Homo sapiens: one gene and its partners. The protein of the gene in region 1 purifies or fractionates together with the protein of each later gene. This does not show direct contact. Each region holds a gene or a part of one and is shown in the gene's direction. Other genes may lie near its edges.

The links.
Region 2: the proteins of ZC3HC1 (region 1) and SEPTIN5 purify together in Homo sapiens (affinity purification with mass spectrometry; one large-scale study listed by BioGRID and IntAct). This does not show direct contact.
Region 3: the proteins of ZC3HC1 (region 1) and SERPINB7 purify together in Homo sapiens (affinity purification with mass spectrometry; one large-scale study listed by BioGRID and IntAct). This does not show direct contact.
Region 4: the proteins of ZC3HC1 (region 1) and GAN purify together in Homo sapiens (co-immunoprecipitation; 2 studies listed by BioGRID and IntAct, with this or other methods). This does not show direct contact.

Annotation. Positions count from the first base shown.
Region 1 is NC_000007.14:130,041,367-130,044,889, reverse strand, and holds part of ZC3HC1 (zinc finger C3HC-type protein 1), read left to right. Parts: exon of another isoform or gene 1-1,262; intron 1,263-3,523. UniProt on the Homo sapiens protein: Required for proper positioning of a substantial amount of TPR at the nuclear basket (NB) through interaction with TPR.
Region 2 is NC_000022.11:19,717,495-19,720,675, forward strand, and holds part of SEPTIN5 (septin-5), read left to right. Parts: exon of another isoform or gene 1-1,243; coding exon of another isoform or gene 1,244-1,324; intron 1,325-2,107; coding exon 2,108-2,204; intron 2,205-2,311; coding exon 2,312-2,398; intron 2,399-2,620; coding exon 2,621-2,744; intron 2,745-2,825; coding exon 2,826-2,960; intron 2,961-3,054; coding exon 3,055-3,172; intron 3,173-3,181. UniProt on the Homo sapiens protein: Filament-forming cytoskeletal GTPase. May play a role in cytokinesis. May play a role in platelet secretion.
Region 3 is NC_000018.10:63,773,995-63,778,232, forward strand, and holds the start of SERPINB7 (serpin B7), read left to right. Parts: upstream 1-1,423; 5' UTR 1,424-1,722; intron 1,723-3,786; exon of another isoform or gene 3,787-3,831; intron 3,832-4,238. UniProt on the Homo sapiens protein: Might function as an inhibitor of Lys-specific proteases. Might influence the maturation of megakaryocytes via its action as a serpin.
Region 4 is NC_000016.10:81,387,954-81,391,324, forward strand, and holds the end of GAN (gigaxonin), read left to right. Parts: 3' UTR 1-2,856; downstream 2,857-3,371. UniProt on the Homo sapiens protein: Probable cytoskeletal component that directly or indirectly plays an important role in neurofilament architecture.

The DNA of each region.
Region 1 (3,523 bases):
ATGACATTTGTTTGATGTTTCTTTGTGATTAGATTCAGGTTATGCAGGAGTGTCGTGAAGCAATGCTGCATTCTCATTGCATCCTGTCAGGTGACACGTGATTTCTATTTATCCCTTTATGGTGATGATCACTTTGATCACTTGATTAAGGGAGTATCTGGCATTTCTATTGTAAAATAACTCTTTCCTCCTTTGTAAATAAAAAGTACTTTGTGGGGAAGTTCTTTGAAACTTTGTAAATATCCCAGTCCTTATCAAACTTTATGTAATTGATTTATTTGTAGTAACATGGACTCAATATTTTCTTTGTTATTCAATGGGTTATAATTCATTACTATCATTATATATTTTGATACTCCAGTTGTTCCTTATTTAGTCAGTGACATCCCCCTCAGGTTGGCTTCTGTGGCCTTTTGACATGTCCCATAACCCATGACCTCTTTATTGCTTTCAGGAACAAGTTGTTCTCGGCTTATCTTGTATTTTTCTTGCCCCATCCCTGGAATCAGCCAATTTTACAAGGATCCTTGGCTGTTTTTCAGTGGAGAATGTTATTTAAAAGCTAAGATCTGAACTGGGCATGGTGGCACACCTGTAATCCCAGCACTTTGGGAGGCCCAGGTGGGAGAATTGCCTGAGCCCAGGAGAGACCAGCCTGGGCAACATAGCAAGATCCTGTCTCTATATAAATGCATGAATGAATGCCAAGATCTGGGTGCAGGGAGAACTCATAGCTAGTGGGATGCCACTGTTCTCAGGCCCTCTCAGAGGAAAAAGCTAGAAAATATATATGTTTATGTACACACACACAGACACACACATTCACATGTATACACACATCTAAATTTACATCCATTTCTCTCTATATTTTAAAAAACGATGAGTTCCTGCTGACATCTCCAGTTGCAATTGTACATCACAGGATTCATTCTAGTTTTCTCCTTTTCCCTATTTTTCCCTCCCATATTCAACACTGTGAAACATAATTTGTTATCCTTAATATATTTACTACTTTGATCAATCCCCTATATGTGCTTAATCTCCCATTTCTGCCATGCTGCCATCCTTTCTTGCATGAATCTCTCGTCACCCCATTTAGGTCCTAGCACTCCACACTTGGCTGCCCGCAAGTGAATGCCTGTTACATACCACTTTGGTTCTGACACCCTGGGCTGAGCTGCCTCTTCGCAGCCTCCTGGCTCTGACATCTTCCTTGTTCACCGCCTAATGGCTTTAAGACTGAATTGCTCAGGAAAGGGAAGGTATTTTAACCATCCTTCTACCATTATTTCTTGCATTAAATCTTGATTTTGATAAAATATTTAGATCCATTTCCTTTTTGTTCATTGGCTATAAATTGATCAACATTTTGGATATGATGATTATTTATTTAACCATTACTTTTATTCTAGATAATCATGGCTCCTTTAATATTTGTATCTGAATTTTGTTTTCCAGTCTTCATTCTTCCTTTGCTGATGTTGGAATGTCTTTCAAATTCCTATATCCCTTTATAAAAATGTATAACTTTCCTGCATCTTCTTTCATATTTTATCCTTTTTTTTTTACTGTGCTTTGTGAAATAAGAGCTCTTCAGGTAGAATTTTTCTTTTGAGACAGAATCTTGCTGTGTTGCCCAGGCTGGAGTGCAGTGGTACCATCTCAGCTCACTGCAACCTCCGCCTCCCAAGTTCAAGCGAGTCTCCTGCCTCAGCCTCCCCAATAGCTGGGATTACAGGTACATACTACCACACCCAGCTGATTTTTGTATTTTTAGTAGAAATGGGGTTTCACCATGTTGGCCCAGGCTGGTCTCAAACTCCTGACCTCAAGTGATCCGCCCGTCTCAGCCTCCCAAAGTGCTGGGGCCACCGCACCCGGCCCACATAGATTATTAAAAACTGAAGCTGGGCGAGGTGGCTCATACCTGTAATCCCAGCACCATGGAAGGCCGAGGAGGGCCTCAGGCGTTCAAGGTCAGGCATTCGAGACCAGCCTGGCCAACATGGCAAAACCCCTTCTCTATTAAAATTACAAAAATTAGTGGGGCATGGTGGCGCACGCCTATAATCCCAGCTACTCGGGAGGCTGAGGCAGGAGAATCGGTTGAACCCAGGAGGCAGAGGTTGCAGTGAGCTGAGCTCGTGCCATTGCATTCCAGCCTGGGCAACAGAGCAAGACTCCATCTCAAAAAACAAAACAAAACAAACAAAAAAACTGAGCATTTAATATTAAGGAGTAATAAATGTTTTAGGATACCTTTCCAAATACATACTTACAGATGCTTTTAGCTGTGTAAAACACATTCTCACACATCCCCATTGATACTAGCAATCAAATTTTGGAGGGATAATTTTATTGCCTTTATTCTTTGGAAAGTAAAAATGGATGGGGTACAGTAGGAGAGCATAGGTGAATGGCAGAAAATATTTCTGTGTGTTTAACTTTGACTATCTCTTATTGTTTAGGCATATCCCAGTACTTTCACTGGTGCCTTTAAGTTCCTAGTATTTCAGATTCAGTGAAAATTAATGGATGCTATATTCTACCAGACAACCAATAATAAACTTTTTTTTTTTTTTTTTTTGAGACAGGGTCTCATTCTGTTGCCCAGGCTAGAGGGCAGTGGTGTGATCGTATCTTACTGTGGCCTTGATCTCCTGGGCTCAAGCCATCCTCCTCCCTCAGCCTCTCAATTAGCTGAGACTACAGGCATGCACCACCACATCCCGCTAATTTTTTGATTTTCAATAGAGATGAGGTGTCGCCGTGTTGCCCAGGCTGATCTTCAACTCCTGAGCTCAAGTGATCCTCCCGCTTCAGCCTCCCAATGTGCTGAGATTACAAGCATGTGCCACTGTGCTTGGCCAATAAACATTTTAAACACATAAAATACATAGTGCTTCTTCAAGAATAAGTTAATAACTTTTCCCCTCCACTTATTACTTAAATGACCTTCATCATTCTGTGAAGTATGGGCCTGTGCATTAAAAATAGTTTTTACCACTTTTCTCATTGCCTTTCTCCTTAATGTTTATTCCTATATACATTAAGAATGAGTTGGGCCGGGCACAGTGGCTCACGCCTGTAATTGCAGCACTTTGGGAGGCCGAGGTGGGTGGATCACGAGGTCACAAGTTCAGGACCAACCTGGCCAAGATGATGAAACCCTATCTCTATTAAAAATACAAAAATTAGCTGGGTGCAGTGGCAGATGCCTGTAATCCCAGCTACTCGGGAGGCTGAGGCAGGAGAATCACTTGAACCCGGGAAGTGGAGGTTGCAGAAACCGAGCCGAGACTGTGCCATTGTACTCCAGCCAGGGTGACAGAGCAAGACTCTGTCTTGAAAAAAAAAAAAAAAAAGAATGAGTTAAGATTGTAATTTATGACTTATTCATTTTAATATACTTGCAGTGTTCACCTGTGATTCCAGCACTTTGGGAGGCCAAGGTGGGCAGATCATCTGAGTTCAGGAGTTCAAGACCAGCCTGAGCAACATGGTGAAACCCCATCTCTACCAA
Region 2 (3,181 bases), on another chromosome or scaffold:
TGGGTCCCATCCCACCCCCACCCCTGTCTCTGAGGGCAGGGCCACCTGAGGGCTGCAGGGCAGCGCATGGGTGGCCGGCGTTTATTCAGCAGGCTGGCGGGGGCTTCCAAGTTTTGCAGGGACCTCCAGTACTCCGGCAGCCTGCACCCTTCCTTTCCCTTCCCTTCCCTTCTGTCCACCCTAAGCCTCCTAGGGGACAGGCAGGCTGGACTTCAGAAAAGGTGGGCTCTGCCCTCCTCCGGTCCCCCGAATGTCTTGGGAAAGAGTCCACCAAACACACATGCACACACCCGCGCACACGCACATACCCAATGCATGCACACACGTACACACACACGCATACACGCATGTATACACGCGCACACACGCAGGCATTACACACACACACATTACACACACACACCCGCACGGACGCGCACACACAAACGCGCGCACGCACGCACGCACGCACGGGGGAGGTCAGCCCCAAGCAGGGCTGGGGAGGGGTGCAGGGCGCGGCGTGTCTGTGGGCACTTGGGGCGTCGAGACGCCGCCGGGAGGTTTTCGGGCAAGTCTGCGAGAAGACGGCGGGCCCTGAACTGGGCGGGTACCCGCGCTGTTGCGCGTGGGTCCCGGGAGCGGCCTCCGGCGCCCTCTGGCGGGCGGAAGCCGCGCAGCACCTCTTGGGGGCGGGACGCGCGGTGGCTACCGACTCCCGGCCCGCCCCGGCCCGCGTGCAGGACCCGGTCGTCCCCTCCTGCTGTCCTGGAGCCCGGACTGAGGCCCCGGGGGCGCGGCAGGGCTCCCGGTCCACGCGAGCCATGGCCCGACCGCGCCTCGGCTCAGCCCTGCCCTCCGCAGCCGCTTTCGGGTGGCTCCGCCCGCGGCCCAATTTCCAGGCGACCGTTTCCCGGCGACGGCGGGCGGGGCCGTCTCTGCCGCCCCCCGCCGCGCGCTCCGCGGGCGCCTGCGACGCCCCGCCTCTGGCTCGGGTGCGGGAGCGGGGCCTGCCCGGACTGCGACGCCGCCACAGCTTGGGGCCAGTTCGCCCAGTCAGGGGGATGGCTCGGTCGGCCTCGGGGGTCGACGATCCCCCGGGTAGGCGACGTGCCCTGTCCAGGCCTCACTTCCCGCGTCCGCAAAACGGGGTGGACAACGCAGCCTAAGGCAGAGCCGCGCCAAGGTCCCTCGCTGTCGCCGGGCTCTGGCGGCCTGACCGGGCCTGGGGTCCGAGCGTGCCCCCGGGCCTGGGGGGGTCGCCGCGATGGACTCGCTGGCAGCGCCCCAGGACCGCCTGGTGGAGCAGCTGCTGTCGCCGCGGACCCAGGCCCAGAGGCGGCTCAAGGTGCGTGTGTGGAGAGGGCGGAACGTGGGTCTGTGACCCCGCGGGCTCCGGGACTCGGCATGGGGTCCCCGTCCCCGCGCGCCACGGCCCGCCAGCGCCTAGGCTCAGCCCTTCCCTCCGCAGCGGCCTCGCAGGTCCGCGGCCCCACGGTGGGGCGACGTGCCCTGTCCAGGCCTCACCTCACGCGACTCCAAAACGCGGCGGAGAATGCGGCCGTGGGACCCCTCCAGGGGCCCCAAGGGTCTGCGGGGGCTGGGCGCCTGGGCGCGCGGGCGGGGGAGGCTCGGCGCCGCGGTCTATAAATAGGCGCTGCTCCGCCACCGCCGCTGCCGCCGCCCCCGCGGCTGGATCCGGGCCAGGTGGGGCCTCCCGCCCCCTGGCACTCTCCGGAGGGGTGAGTGTCGAGGCCCCCAGCTTCTCCGGCTTATGGAGGGCCTTGAGTGTGTCCCAGGGGTCCCAATCCTGCTGCCCTCTGCCCGAGGAGGGAGGACATCGCCTGTGCCTGCTGCGGCCTGACATCTCCCCACGGAATAAATACAGTGTCGGTCCCTGCAGAGCCCTCCCTGGGATTGGGGCCAGGGGTGCCTTCTCCTGCCACCACCTCGCCTGCCTTCTTATCTCCAGGCTTTTGCCCACGGGCCCTCCCCTTATTTTTGCCAACGAAATGCCCCACCCTGGGAACCGTACCCTCTGCTGTCTCCTCATACCGCATTTGGTAAGAGACAGGGTATTGGGCTTCTGGAGAAACCTTTGTGTCCCTACCCTGTTCCATCCTGTCCCCAGGACATTGACAAGCAGTACGTGGGCTTCGCCACACTGCCCAACCAGGTGCACCGCAAGTCGGTGAAGAAAGGCTTTGACTTCACACTCATGGTGGCTGGTGAGTGGGCCAGGCTCCTCGGGGGAGTGGCTGGGGTCACTGGCCAGCCAAGCTCTGTCGTTGGAGCCCCAGACCTAACGCAGCTCCTTCTCTGTACCTGTGTGCAGGTGAGTCAGGCCTGGGGAAGTCCACACTGGTCCACAGCCTCTTCCTGACAGACTTGTACAAGGACCGGAAGCTGCTCAGTGCTGAGGGTGAGTGGCCCCCAGGAGGCCCTGGCACTGATCCCCAGTCCCCTTCCATGGGACCTCTCCAAGGACTCCCTTTCAGGTCCAGCTCCCACTGTTCTGTTCTCGCGGTGTGGGTCCCCTGGGGGTAGGGCCAAGGCACCAAGATGGATGAGGACGAGGGTCCTGGCTGCCAAGGGTGAGGGGCTGAGGGTTGGAGAGGCCCTTCCAGTGGCCCCTTCCCCGTAGAGCGCATCAGCCAGACGGTAGAGATTCTAAAACACACGGTGGACATTGAGGAGAAGGGAGTCAAGCTGAAGCTCACCATCGTGGACACGCCGGGATTCGGGGACGCTGTCAACAACACCGAGTGGTGAGTGAGGCCTGCTGAGAAAGGCCTTGCCTAGGCGGCCACAGCACTCGAGGCCTGGCCTCACCTCCCTCCTGCCCACAGCTGGAAGCCCATCACCGACTATGTGGACCAGCAGTTTGAGCAGTACTTCCGTGATGAGAGCGGCCTCAACCGAAAGAACATCCAAGACAACCGAGTGCACTGCTGCCTATACTTCATCTCCCCCTTCGGGCATGGGTGTGTGGCTGTCCTGGGGCCAGGCTCGGGAGTGCAGCCCCTACAATATGGCCCCCTGGCTGTGCCTATGCCCACCCTTGGCTGCTCTCGGCAGGCTGCGGCCAGTGGATGTGGGTTTCATGAAGGCATTGCATGAGAAGGTCAACATCGTGCCTCTCATCGCCAAAGCTGACTGTCTTGTCCCCAGTGAGATCCGGAAGCTGAAGGAGCGGGTGAGCCTG
Region 3 (4,238 bases), on another chromosome or scaffold:
AGGTAAGAAATAGAAAGGATATGGGATTCAAAATATTCAGCCTATGAACACTGCAATTAGAATATGGAGAACAGGGAATCCATTTGTAGGCTCATTTTTTTTTTATATTAACAACAACCTTCTCCTTCAGAAAGTTCACCACAACTGCTAAATCAAAATTAAATTTCAGGGATTTTCTGCAACTTTACTTTTCTCTATGATTATTCTACTCATAAACAATCATGGAGGTGAGCAATAACTACTTTATTCGATTTTGGATAAGTTAACAGGACCCCCTTCTTCCTGGGAAAGAGGCAAAATTGCACAAAATTGAGAGGCGAGCAACTGTAAGATGATGGTACCTTCTAATTCCAATAGCTTTTTACAATAGAGAACCCAGTTACTTGGATAAATGTTGGCTGTACTTTTGAAAACACTCAGGCAGAAGGACCAGGCTTGCAGTCATTTCCATGCATAGCAGGTGAAGGTAGGTGCAACATACAGCTCAACCTCATGATGCTACGGCCAGAAACTGAAATGTGTTTTTGCCCCTGTGTGGCATGTTCTGATGGCAAAGGTGTAGGCAACCAACTGGGCCCAACCTACCTTTCCCTACACCTGGTCACTTTTCAAAGTGCAAACCCACTTTAACAAACTCTAGCCTGTATTATAGGAGGAAGGATCTGGGTGGTGCAGACGTGGCTTTCCATTGCCAGATCAGAAGGGTGGAGGAGAGGCTGGCAGGATGACAAGAATGAATGAACACACCAAGTTTCAGCTCCTATCTGAAGCTGCTCAGTTCAGGTAAGCATTTAGAGAAGCCAGTTGCAATAACTAACAGGGCAAATGTTTCTCTGGAAAATTCCAAGCCAGAGAAAATTGAGAAAAAGAGGGAAGGATGGAAAGCAGTACAAAGAGAAGCCAGCTCAAAAGGTTAGAGGTCCAGATGAAAATCTGAGATTGGAGAATGATAAAAAACATTGTGTGAGATTCTATTTTAGGTCATTATGCTAGGGAAATTTACACAGGATAGGGTTGAAAGAAATTAGGCTATAAGATGAGTGGCAAGTTGCAATAAAATGGCACCCTAAACTCACCAAGTCACTGTTGTCACTGCTATCTTGCCTTAGTTGATTTGATGTCTAGTTAGTCTATTTGTGTGTTTCTCACAGAAGAGTATGTTTTGACCCAGGCTGACAGATACTGTTGATTCTGAAATTTGTTTTTATGGTTATGTTAAAACCATTGTCATTATAAGAAACAGAGATGGGAATATTGCCTCCTGAAATCTGATTCACATACAAACTGAATGAACTACATAACAACCACCTTAGTCAGATACTATTTTGAAACCTGGTTCAAAACCTAAATGCTTATAAGATTCTTGAGAGACAGTGCTGTGCTCTGAGTCATAGGGAAGCCATCCCAGAAGCCAGGTCTACTCATCAATAAGCAGCTGCCTGTGCAGAGTGCAGGCTGCACCTTTGGACAGCCTTTAAAACTGAATTCTCAGAATTTTAGAACAAATTTTTGTCTAGAAATGCTGACTTTGGTTCATTAGGTAGTGGTAAAACAGGCTCCCTTCGAAGCTCTCCTTCATCACCTTCCTAAGTGCATGGGGGAAAATACCTAGGGCTCAACAGTCTTGAGAAGTGTGGAAACATTTTCTTTGTGAGTGAGAACAGATCACCTAGAGAAAGGAGACCAGATTCCCATCACTGCTTCTGGGTATCAGATGCTAGCGTGAGTACACTGTTGATTTGCTTATCCAATTATTGATTTACATTATTGCTCTTATCTTCTGTTGTAGGCAAGAGGTAAGTTCACTAACGAATCTCAAGGAAGATGTAAATGGCCAATGATCATGCTCAGAGGCCTGAAATCTCTCCAGGTCGCCTCCTTGGAGGGATGCTTTTCTGGTGGGGCAGCTTTTATCACCATACACAAATGTGCTTGGGTTTGGATTCTGCTGGAGAGAACACTGTGACCCGTGGTCTCTTCCTTGGGCCATGTCAGTCAGTCTTGGACTTATTTTGCATCCTATTCTTTACCTCACTGATGCCTGTGTATCCTTGGCTTGGTGTCCCAGCCCATTGTCCATCAAAACCTGCTATCAGGAATAGATCAATTATCAGTTATACACAATGCGCCATGACCCTATCCCAGAGGCATTAGGTCATTTGGCTTCATGTTTTTTTTGTTGTTGCTGTTGAGTTTTAAAATAATGAAATATAATGTAGCTACATAAAGATGAATTCAATAGATGCATACAATTTAATAATAGAACATCACCAGAACCTCTAAAACCTCCCTCCCCATTCTTTCACCAACAAAACCTCCCCACCCACTAGGGGTAACTAAAGCAGTTATATCCGTGGCTTAGTCTATCCACCCATGTAAGCATCCATTAAAAAACAGTTTTGTCTGGTTTGATCTTTTCATGAAGGGCATCTTACTGTGTGTATTCTTTCGTGCCTGATTTATTTGCCTTCTAAACCTTACTTCTATCAGTGGCGTGGGAGCTGATGGCTACTGCTGTGGTGATTTCAGACAGTCTTGAGAAGATGAGGGTAGAGTTTTGTGGTCAGAAACCTTCTTGTGTGCCTTAAGATAGTGCGAATTGAAAGACCATGTCCTGGTATGAAGCATAGTTTTTGGGTATACTAGATAAACCAAGGTCTGTGAGAAGCTCTGGTAGACAAAGGGAAGAAGTGGGTCCCAATGGACGTCTAACAAGGACTGGGGGGTTTAAATCATTAAGACTATGATAATTTTATCCACAGTTGATCTATAAAGTGTACTATGATATACTTTTCACAATGTAAGCTTTCTCTGGAGTTAATAATTATCAAATTTGCTCATTTTTTGGATATTTATTTGGTTTCTAAGTTCCTATCACTAATGTATTTCTTTTCTGATGGGGGTAGATATCCCTCTCCATGTGTTCAATATATTCTAACGCATCTCTCTCTCTGATAGCATATTCACCTTAGAGAGCTTCAAACAGTCAGCATACTCAATTTTAGCATTAATCATACAACGAAAATAAAGGCAGTATGGGCAAACACTTGTGGGAAATAATGTGTAAGATAAAGTCAGAAACACTATGTGAGGTACAACCCTACTTCTCTTGAGAGGGACAGCTCACCTGCCTCCCTTAAATACAATGTTCCCCAAATACAGCATAAATACCATGTTAGTGATTATACACATACATAGCAACACACACATATATATATGTGTGTGTGTACTAATGAAAATGTAATTGGTGTGAATTTTTATTTTATGGATGAGAAAAGGCCCACTCTATTCTATAGCACTTTGCTTTCTTCACCTCTCTGGGACTGCAGTGCTACTCCTCTATGACAGTTGAATTTATAGATGTCAGAATATGAATTATTCCAGGTGGGGCTCGGTCATATTCATCAAATACCAAAATCAGAGCAGGGAGGAATCAAATAAACAATAACAAAAATCAGTAACTACATTTCCACATGTAAGAAGTGCCAGTTGTGCCTTAATGTAAGGATATCTAAATTTACTACATAAAAATACTATGTGATACTAAATATCAAATGAAATAACATTTCATGCTAAAATTTGATTCATTAAAAATATCTATTTGACTACTTTGAATTAGAGCTATAGCTAATATTCTACAGACTTCTTTTAAATTGCTCTATAAAGCATCTGAATATATTTATTTTAATGACATTATTTAAAACTATCATGGCCATCATAAAAAAAAAAGTAGGGAGTGTCTGAGTCAGAGGCTTTATATTTCAGAGTAATGCAAAGAACTCTTTCAGACTCACCCAACCAGCGGCCAACTTCCTCTATGAAGACAGTAAGGTAAATACTTCTGAAGTCCATAATTTAAAGTCTGGCCAGATCCTTTGAAAAAAGACACACACACACACACACACACACACACACACACACACACACACACAGACACAGAGAGAGAGAGAGAAATAAATCTTGGTTACTTTGTGTCTGAGACATTAAACTCATCACACAACATCCAGATCGGATAATGGTCCTCTTGTCTGCTTCTCCACCTTACAGCTTGTCTATGACTGATTTAAGTGGTGTCATGGGAGAATGGCATGGGAATCGGATGCCAGCTGAAAAATTTGTGTTCCATCTTTGAAGAGATAAGTAGGGATTATGTGCAAATCTAGATTCTATATTTCCTGTGTTCTTATTTAAGGCATTATAGGTTGGAATATACTAGATTTTGAGATTAGAATTGAACT
Region 4 (3,371 bases), on another chromosome or scaffold:
CACTGGTGAATAACCTTTCGTTTGAACCAGCCTTGATTGTTCTCTCCATGTTCCACTGTGGCTCCCCATGGACACTGCTAGGTGGAATCTCTGAGAAAACAGGCACTTCGCAGTCGGCGCATCTTTCTCTGCCAGCTTAGGGATTGCCGTCAAGGTGGAGGAAGGGTATTTTGGCCATGTTCGGAGTCGTTGTTTTTACTCACTCTTCTTGGGATAGCTTTCCCACCCTGCCCTCTGCTCCTCTGTCCCAACCCTCTTCCAGCCTGGTTTTTTTACTGCTTGAATTATGTATCCAAAATAAAAAGGAAAAGAAAGGTGCAGTTGGGGCGGGTTGTTGGGGGCGAGGAGAATAGCCCTTCTGGTTCTTCAGACCACATAATGGCCAGAGCATGAGCCTCACAGATCCCTGAGCAGACCTGCATACTAGCACTTTCCACAACCAGCTGGCCCTGGCTGTGAGAGTCAGATCTGTCCCCAAGGCTCCAGGTCAGAACTTGGACCCAGGTGCCTTCTGAGGCACCGCCAAGGACACATCCCAGCGCCTTAGGCACCTGTAGGCTAGAATGACACCTTCCAGGCCAGCCCCAGAGGCCCTCAGGGCTCCCCCTCCAAGCCGGGAGGGCAGGCAGGCACAGGCCCCGCTCACTACCTCAGCACCCAGTGCAGCCCCAGGCTCCCGGACGTGCTCGGCCCGGTGGCCTCTTGTGTGACAGGCCCTCTGCCATGTCTGTCCGCAGAGCCGGGTGGGGACCCTCCGTGTGGGTCCTCCTCTGTCCCTTTGCAGCTCGCATTCGCCAGAGCGGAGCGCAGCCCTTGTTTCCTTCTTTCCTCTTCAGCTCTGACTTAAAAACACACTATGTTCCAAATCGTTGTGGGATCGGAAACTAGAACTGCTTGTTTCCAGGAGAGACCACCTTTTCATATTTTTTTTAAAAGGAATTTGTGCTTCAAAAGAAACTCCAAAAAATAAATTTATTGTTAGTCTAGCATATGCTCATTGAAATTGACTTATGTTTTATTTTAAAAAATCATGTAGGATCTGGTACATGGGGCGGGCAAAAGGGTATCATCAGCTTAAGAAGTAAAGAAGTGAGCCTTCCATTTGTGTGGGTGATAACATCTTTTTCCTAGATCGTACCTCAAAATTCAGGCTCTCCATGAAAACAAAGATAATCTGAATAAAAATTGTGTGTTGGGAAATGTATCAAGTGACCTTCAGTTAAGAAAAGCACAGGCTGTTTATTAGCACAACTTGCTTCATTAAATAATTCGTGGCTTTTTCTGCCACTGGGGTTCTTTTCGTTTTGAATTCAGCTTGTGTTTGGTTCCTCGGTCTTGTACCCCTTCAGTTCGCCGGCGACGTAATGGTGATACCCTTTGTTTTTTGTATCATACCTTTTGTGAATTGTGACAACCATCCCGTAATCATTGTGGCCTCAGCAGAAGTTTTGAACAATCTTTGCAGCCACTGTTGGGGTGTGTACCAGCAGCCTGGAAGTGACCAGCAGAGCTGACAAAAGCACCCCCTGCTCTGCCCACCTCCGCAGAGTCCTGTCCTCATCAGAAACGGTATCGCGGATGCTCCTCAGGTAGGCGTAGGCAGACTTCATTGTGTGTTAGCAGTGACAGTGATGTCTGTACCTATCTGTGAGTGAGACCCATTCATGACACACTAGAAATGTGTACATTCTTTTGTTTTCCATCACGGGTATAGGTCTTCTGCCATGAAAGAGAACTATCAAGGAAATTCCTGAAAACAAGATTTGTAAATTCGATTTGACCCTCCCAAATTCAGGGCTGCTCTTTGCAGTGGTCCCTGGCCCAGCAGGTGGCCGGCGTGGCTCCTGTTGGCTCATGCCAGTGTTGTGCTGGACCCTCGAGTATGTGACTGTCACCCTTGTCCAAGACTGGTTTTTAACAGTCTTGATTTGTCATTTTGATGCTTTGAATACTATAAGGAAAATGCCACGAATACCATATAAATACCACACCAATCTGTTGAACATATCTGTGTTTTCTGACATGGGACCTGCAGAATAGTATTTCTTTTAAATCCTGCAACTTTATTATCTAGTAGAATTCCAAGTAGGTCTGCTTAGACACATATTCAGTGAAGATTGTATTGTGTGTGATATTATCCTATCTTTAATAAAGTCCTACTACTGAAAAACAGGGATTTGCAATGAAAATCATAGCTAAATAGGCAGGTTTAGAAAGTTCAAAATATTGGAAGTGCTAGAAGGCTGCAACTTGTAAAATTGTACTCCCCAAGTTCAGTAGGATAGTAGAGAAGTCGTGCTAAGTTGATTTCATTGAAATGTCACGTCTCACATCCTGTGGTCCAAAGGTACTAGTTTGTTTTGTGGAATAATTTTCTGTTCACTTGCTGATAAGAAATTTAGCAGTCAGAAGTAATTTTTAATTAATAACCTTTCTTTTTAAAAGTTGCTTTATGGTTTACAAGTAATACTGATGCAAAAAGGATTTGTTAACCTAAATTAAGTAGCACGCACTTTGTTTACATGCTTCAGTATATTGTGGGGTTGGTCCCTTCTCACGAACCCAGGACCTGTGCTTGGGGAACATTTTGCCATCATGCTGTTCTCTTGTACCAAGGATCAGTGAAAGTGTTTTATCTTTTTTATGTAGTTTGTATTGACTGGATTTTATAACTGTAAGAAAACAGAAACAGAGTGTTGTATTTTGATCTGAAATTTGTGTATGCTAAAGTAATTTTGTTTTATGTATTGGAAGTTCACTTAAAAACTTGAAATATTTTCTAGAAGGGTACCACACAAAAGGAATCATCTTTAAGCTGTTTAATTAACCTAATAAAATAATTTGATGGGGAAGGCATTCTAATTGTTTCTGATTTTTAGAGTGGTTCCTGCTAAATCATCATTATCAATACAGCTTGATTTGATTTAAGAATGAAACGTTGTCGTTTCTGTCATTTACACGGTGTGGGTGTCAGCTCCTAGACCGTGGCTTGTGATGTTAGATCCGTCCCTTAGCAGCCACACCCCAGTCACTGCCTGAGCCTCTTCCATCGCTGACTGCCTGAGTCTCTCCATCGCTGACTGCCTGAGTCTCTCCATGGCTGACTGCCTGAGTCTTTCCATGGCTGACTGCCTGAGCCTCTCCATCGCCGTCAGCATAAGTCTCCTTGCTGTCTTCCCTGAAAAATGGTTTCAAATTGGCTTTCCTCAGAAGACAGAGAGAAAATAGATTTCGGAGGACTAGAGGACCTTGATATTAAGGGCTTGGTAATATGAGGCAGAATTCCATCTGCAGAAAGCAGATTTCTCTAGTTCCCTCTTACTGCGCTGTCCAGAGACAATAAACCTACAAAGATTGGTAGTACTTGAAAA